Homo sapiens: one gene and its partner. The protein of the gene in region 1 purifies or fractionates together with the protein of each later gene. This does not show direct contact. Each region holds a gene or a part of one and is shown on either strand. Other genes may lie near its edges.

Region 1 (3,819 bases):
CCTATGGTAGTTCTATTTTTAATTTTTTGAGGAACTACCATACTGTTTTCCACATCAGTTACACCATTTTACAATCCCATCAACACTGTACAAGGGTCCCAGTTTCTCCGCATCCTTGCCAACATTGTTATTGACTGTGTTTTTGATAGTAACCACCTCATGGGTGTGATAACCATGGTATTTCGTTGTGGTGTAGATTGGCATATCCCTAATGGTTAATGATGCTGCTGAGCATTTTTTCATGTGCTATGTGTCCACTTGTATATCACCTTTGGAGAAATGTCTATTCAAGTCTCTTGCCCGTTTTTTTTAATCAGTTATCGGATTTTTGTTGTTGAGGTCTTTATTCTGTATATTAATATTTTCTCTTATTCTATAGGCTGCCTTTTCATTCTGTTGGTTGTGTCTTCTGATGCACAAAAGTTTTTAGGTTTAATGTAATTCCGTTTGCCTTTTTGTACTTTTTTTTTTTTTTTTTTTTTGAGACGGAGTCTTGCTCTGTCCCCCAGGCTGGAGTGCAGTGGCGTGATCTTGGCTCACTGCAAGCTCCACTTCCCGGGTTCACGCCATTCTCCTGCCTCAGCCTGCCGAGTAGATGGGACTACAGGTGCCAGCCACCATGCCCGGCTAACTTTTTGTATTTTTAGTAGAGACGGGGTTTCACCATGTTAGCCAGGATGGTCTCGATCTCCTGACCTCGTGATCCGCCCGCCTCGGCCTCCTAAAGTGGCCGATTTGTACCTTTTGTTTCCTTTGCTTTTAGTGTCAGTGTATGTGTGTGTGTGTGTGTGTTTAATTTAATATAATATAATTCATGGCCAGGCACTGTGGCTCATGCCTGTAGTTCCAGCACTTTGGGAGGCTGAGTCAGGTGGATTGCTTGAGGCCAGGAGTTTGAGACCAGCCTGAGCAACATGGCAAAACCCCGTTATCTACAGAAAATACAAAAAGTAGCCAGACGTGGTGGCACACACCTGTAGTCCCAGGTACTTGGGAGGCTGAGGTAGGAAGATTGCTTGAGCCTGGGAGGTCAAGGCTGCAGTAAGCCATTATCACACCACTGCACTCTAGCCTGGGTGACAGAGCAAGATCCTGTCTCAAAAAACAAAATAAATAAAAAGAAATATAATTCACATTCCACCAATTTCTTCTTTAAAAGTGTATGATTCAGTTTTGATTTTGATACATTCACAAGGTTGTACATCCATTACTACTATGTAGTTCCAGAAGTTTTTCACTGCGCCAAATGGGAGCCCTGTACCCATCAGACAGTCCCTACCCATCTTCCCTTTCCCCAAGCCCCTGGGAACCACTAGTCTACTTTCTGTTCCTATGAATTTGCCTGTTCCGGACATTTCATGTAAATGAAATCTGGGTTAGTCATGGATCTCCAAAGAAACAAAACCAATAGGATATCTGTAAGTATGGAGAAAGAGATTTATTATGAGGAATTCATTCATGCAATTTTGGAGACTGAGAAGTCCCACGATCTGCCATCCACAAGCAGCAGGCCCAGGAACGCCGGTGGCATAAAACCCATCCTAGCCCGAAGGCCTGGGAACCAGGGGAGCCTACAGTGTCTCATTCTGAATCTGAAAGCCCCAGAACAGAGGGGCCGACGTGTAAGGCCTAGTCTGACTCCAAAGGCCCCAAAACCAGGAGGTATGATGTCTGAGAGGAGATGAGGACGGCTATCCTAGCTCAAGCAGGGAGAGGAAATTCCCTCTTCCTTTCTTTGTTGTCGTATTCAGGCCCTCAAAGGTTTGGATAATGCCCATCCAGATTGGGAAGGGAGGGCCTTCTTTTTTCTTTTCTTTTCTTTTCTTTTTTTTTTTTTTTGAGACAGGGTCTTGCTCTGTCACCCAGGCTGGAATACCATGGTGTGATCTCAACTCACTGCAGCCTCCACCTCCCGGGCTCAATTGATCCTCCTGCCTCAGCCTCCTGAGTAGCTGGGACTACAGGCATGCACCACCACGCCTGCCTAATTTTTCTATTTTTTGTAGAGACGGGATCACTATGTTGCCCAGGCTGGTCTTGAGCTCCAGAGCTCAAGTGATCCTCCCACCTTGGCCTCTCAAAGTGCTGGGATTACAGCCATGAGCCACTGCATGAGGGTGGATCTTCTTTTCTCCGTCCACCAATTCAAATGCTAATTTTTTTTTTTTCCTAGAAACACCTTCACAGACCCAGATGTGATCTGGGTATCCCTTAGCCCAGTCTAGGTGACACATGTTTTGTACAATATGTGGCTTTTTGTCTGGCTTCTTTCACTTAGCATATTTTCCAGGTTCATCCCGGTTTAGGTGTTTACCATTATTTCATTCCTTTTGATGGTCAAATAATCACCCATTGTGTGGACATACCACATTCTGTTTATCCATTCATACATTGATGGGCATTTGAGTTGTTTCTGCTTTTGTGTTGTTATGAGTAATGTTGCTATGAATGTTTATGTACGTGCTTTTTTTGGGGCATACATTTTTGGTTCTTTTGGGCACATACCTAGGAGTGGAATTGCTGGGCCACATGGTAACTCTGTTTTAGCCGTGCTGTGTTGCAGACCAGCTGTGAGTGAGTGTTGTGGGTTTCCAGCTGCCTTGGGATGCAGGAGGAGCCTGGGCTTTAGGTCAGACAGACCTGGATCTTGATTCTACCACTCCCTAGCCAAGTGACTGCACCCCCACAGTACAGTTCTGGGCCCAAGCTGGCAGGTGCAAATAGGCTTTGATATAAAACTATGTTTCCTCAGCTCTATAGGAAGACAGAGGTAGGGCATCTTCAGCTCATTGGGAGATCTAGCCCCTGCACCCACATAGCTCCTTTTGCTCTACTACTGCAAGAATTGTGTCTGGCTGCCACAGGCGAGAGCCAAAGCACTATGGGTTACCTTGAATCACAGAAGCTGTAGCCTCCGTTTCCCACCAACCTTTTCTATGACTCTGTTTACCCAGACCCAAGGCCTGCTGGCCAACTCAGTCCCTCCAGTGCAGGGGCAGTGGGTGGCAGATACAACAGTCCTCGTGGAGCCTCTGTGCTACGGGAGGCCAGGGTCATTCCCAGGCAGGCCCCCATCAGCCCAGGCCCGATGTTAACCCTTGACTCACAGTGACCTTGAACTTGAACAGTGACCATGACACCTTCTGGGTACCCACTTTTCTTTTCTGTAAAATGGGGTTGATGTTGGCTGTATTATAAGGTTGTAAAAAGATGATTAAATGAGGTGCACAATGTGTTTAGGGGACCTGGCAGGGCTCCTGATGCCCCTTGTGGGCTTCAGAAGTGGCACCTGTTATTCTGATCACGAGTGTGACTTCCGCATCCTGGGCTGTGCAGAGGCATGTTCTCAGCTCACCCCATCACACTGGAGTTCTCCTGGAGTTGGAAACTGTCTTCCTGTGGAAAGTTATGTTATGCTTTCAAGGCACTGTTTTCACAGAATTCCTCCGAACCCAAAGGTCATGGGCTTCCATGAATTTCCACCCAAAGTAGGAAAGTCTCTTCCTGCCACAGACAGATTTCTTAGATCTAATTTTGGTCTCAGCTGTCAGAGCTGGTTTTGTTTGTGGGGTTTGACCAGTGTTTCTTTTTCTTTTGGGGAGTTGTGGGGGGATAAGATCTTGTTCTGTTGCCCAGGCTGGAGTGCAGTGGTGTAATCATGGCTCACTGCAGCCTCAACCCCCTGAGCTCAAGCAATCCTCCCTTCTCAGCCTCCTCAGTAGCTGGGAATACAAGCATGCACTACTACACCCTGCTAATTTTATTTTTATTTTTTGTAGAGACCGGGTCTCAAAACTCCTAGCCTCAGTGATCCTCCTG
Region 2 (3,819 bases), on another chromosome or scaffold:
AGTGCAAGAAAGTTTAAAGACAGTGGCCCTCGCAAAAGCCCCTGTGGAGTGAGGAAGTTTAATTTTTTTCCTAAAGGATTGGGAGAACACTTGTGTTCCAGATCACGGATGGTGGGGAAAGCTGACACAAGGTGAGGCTTAGGAGGAGGCAGGTGACAAATCACCCAGGGCTTTATCAACTGTGTTAAGGACTTGGGTCTTTAGAAAAGCACACAGGATGCTGGGGGTGGGGTGGCGGGGGGTGGGTCATGAAAGGCTTCTCCGGGGAGGAACGGTAGTATTGGATGAAAAAGTAGAGGTCAGAAGCCTTCAGGTGAAAGGCATTGTTTCAGGAAAGGAGCAGAGGCTGAAACTAGCTTAGGATATGCCAGGATGTAAAAGCAGAGAATGTTGGTGGCAGAAATAAGACACATACCAGTTTTATGCTCAAGGAGCTGAGATGGACAAGAATAACCAGCACAGAGCAGACTGTGTGAAGAGTCGTCATGTTAGGGGTACACGCAGCCCACACTCCAGTCAAACTATGCCGTCACTGTCCCTCCATCACGGGCACACTTTCCATCTTCTGGGTCTTGCTCATCCCCTTCCCTTTGCATGAGATGCCATCCCCAGCACCTCTGGCCATCCTTCTCATATGGTATCTTCTCCAAGAAACCTTTCCTGATCCCAATAACTAGAGGAGTTATCGCCCTCCTTGGGGCCTTTTTGACCTTTGTGCTTCTAAAGTGGTACTGTCTGTTCCTCCTTCTGGCATTCCTTCCCCCTGGTAAACTACTGCTTTTTAAAAATTTTTTAATTTTCATGGGTATGTAGTAGGTATATATACTTACAGGGTACACTCATATATTTTGATACAGGCATGTAATGTGTAGTAATTGCATCAGGGTAAACAGGGTGTCCATCACTTCAAGCATTTATCCTTTGTATTACAAACAATCCAATTATACTCTTTTTCTCTCTTTTTTTTTTTTTTTTTTTGAGACCGAGTCTCGCTCTGTCACCCAGGCTGGAGTGCAGTGACATGATCTCAGATCATTGCATCCTTCACCTCCCATTTCAAGCGATTCTTGTGCCTCACCCTCCTGAGTAGCTGGGATTACACGTGTCCACCAACATGCCTAGCTAATTTTTATGTTTTTAGTAGAGATGGGTTTTTACCATGTTGGCCAGCCTGGTCTCGAACTCCTGACCTCAAGTGATCTGCTCGCCTCAGCCTCCCAAAGTGCTGGGATTACAGGCGTGAGCCACTGCATCCAGCCCAGTTATACTTTACTTTTCTTTCTTTTTTTGTGAGACAGAGTCTCACTCTGTTGCCAGGCTGGAGTGCAGTGGTGCGATCTCGGCTCACTGCAACCTCTGCCTCCTGGGTTCAAGCGATTCTCCTGCCTCAGCGTCCCAAGTAGCTGGGACCACCAGTTTGTGTGTGCCACCACGCCCAGCTTCAGTTATACTTTTCTAGTTATTTTAACTACTGCTTTTTAACTGTGAGAGTTAAGTATATCTTCCTTGGTCTAATTCCCTCCAGCAAAGTTGTGACTATCTTTTTAAATGTCATTGCCCTGTACAATCAATAAGAGGTACCTGTAATGATAGTTATTATTTCATCATCCTCAAAATCTCTTTGTGGGGTAGGTATTATCTATGTTTTATAATTGAAGAAACAGAGACTCAGAGCCATGGAGTAATTTGCTCAAGGTCATGGAGCTACTGAGTATTAAGAGTCTTACCTTGAACAAAGGACCATCTCACTCCAGAACCTCATGTTGCTTAAACTACCCAAACATTGCCAATTGAGGCTTCAGTAATTGTTGCATATTAGCTACCTGATTAATTTCAGTCACTTTAGTGTTCTCCATAAAACTGCTCATATAGTTGAGAGGCAATAAGAGTGAACTCAGCTGTCCTACTGCTAGGACTGGTGCCCTGCTTGTAGTGTTATAATGGTGCCCTGCTGGCACTCTTCCTTTGGCCTTCGAAGGTTCAGAGCTGCCCTGAATTTTATTCAAGAGCAGCTGAAATAAAGTATGTTAGGATATTCGGAGACAGGAAGTCTCAATCACTGCTGGTGGACACAAGTAGGTAAGGTTCTTTTGGAAAGCAGTTTGGTAACATGGTTCAGGATCCTTGAAAATGGTTTGCACCCTGTTGACCTAGTGATCACACTGATAGGTGTTCATCTTAAGGCTGCCCCCCAAAAAGCTTTTTCTACACAGACACTCCTTTTGTATTTGTAAGAAAACCTTCATTGATGGAATATTATGCAGTCACATAAGTGATCATTTTAAGAGACTGTTATATGAAAAATCATTTTTGTGTATAATCCCCAATTTTACATAATCTTGACAAAGCAGGATGCAAAATTAATTATAGTATCATGTTCTAGATCAGTACTTGGCACATTGTGGGCATGCAGTAAATATTTGTTGAATAAATGAATGATCATCAGTGGCATGAATCTCACTATGTGAAGAAAAGGAAATATACTAAAATGTTAATAGTGTTTGCCTTTATGTGGTAGAACTAAGAGTGTTTTTTTGTTTTTTGGGTTTTTTTTTTTTTTTTTGAGACAAAGTCTTACTCTCTTGCCCAGGCTGGAGTACAGTGGTATGATCACGGCTCACTGCAGCCTCTACCTCTGAGGCTCGAGCAGTCCTCTTGCCTTGGCCTCCCAAAGTGCTGGAATTATAGACATGAGCCACCATGCCTGGCCTAAGAGTGGTTTTTATCCTGTGATTTCTACTTTCTTTTTTCCTTTTTTTTTGAGACATAGTCTCACTCTGTCACACAGGCTGGAGTGCAGTGGTGTGATCTCGGCTCACTGCAACCTTTGCCTCCTGGGTTCAAGTGATTCTCCTGTCTCAGCCTCCAGCATAACTGGGATTACAAGGCATGTGCCACTACACCCGGCTAATTTTTGTATTTTTAGTAGAGACAGCATTTCACCATGTTGGCCAGGCTGGTCGAACTCCTGACCTCAGGTGATCCGCCTGCCTTGGCCTCCCAAAGTGCTGGGATTACAGGCGTGAGTCACTGTGCGCAGCTGATCCCACTTTCATTTTTGTTCCCATATTTTCTGTAGTGATTATGTAGACTTACTGGAAAAAATAACCTTCATTAAAATTTTTTGGACTTGAATCAAAGAAGTAAAGTTTAGGACTTAGATTATATTCCTTGTTCTCCCAAAATTATTTAAAATAAATGTTATTCTCCCCATGATACAGATGAAAACACTGAGGTTTAGAGGGGTTTAGTTACTTACTCAGGCTTGTGTATTTAGTAAGTGGCTAGCTGAGCCAGAACCAAAATCTAGGTCTGACTCCAAATTCTGTTGTCTTCATAGTCATTTTTCTATATCAGATTGATCTCCTGATGAGATTTTTTGTTTTTCAAAGCTTTTGCCCTTTGTATCAGGTAGGGTCTATAGCAAAGCTGAGGTTGTGACAGCTTGTCTTTAAATTCAAAGTATAGCATTTCTAGTGTGGGTAAGGTTTCTGAGGCCCGTGTGCTCTAATTGATTTCAGAATTTGGCAATGCAGCCACTTCTCTGACAGCAAACCCAGATGCCACCACAGTAAACATTGAGGATCCTGGTGAAACCCCAAAACATCAGCCAGGATCCCCAAGAGGCTCAGGAAGAGAAGAAGATGATGAGTTACTGGGAAATGATGACTCTGACAAAACTGAGGTTTGAACTTGTCTTTGAGATATTTTTTAAACAATTTTTAAAGCTTGTTTATGTGCTTATTCACTGTCTACTGTGTGCCAGGTACAGTGTCAGGCAATGACAGCTCAGAGGTAAATGACACATGGCCTCTTCCT

Evidence for each region.
Region 2: the proteins of TVP23A (region 1) and YIPF1 purify together in Homo sapiens (affinity purification with mass spectrometry; one large-scale study listed by BioGRID and IntAct). This does not show direct contact.

The regions. Positions count from the first base shown.
Region 1 is NC_000016.10:10,808,567-10,812,385, reverse strand, and holds part of TVP23A (Golgi apparatus membrane protein TVP23 homolog A), read left to right. Parts: intron 1-3,779; exon of another isoform or gene 3,780-3,819.
Region 2 is NC_000001.11:53,882,979-53,886,797, reverse strand, and holds part of YIPF1 (protein YIPF1), read left to right. Parts: intron 1-3,521; coding exon 3,522-3,685; intron 3,686-3,819.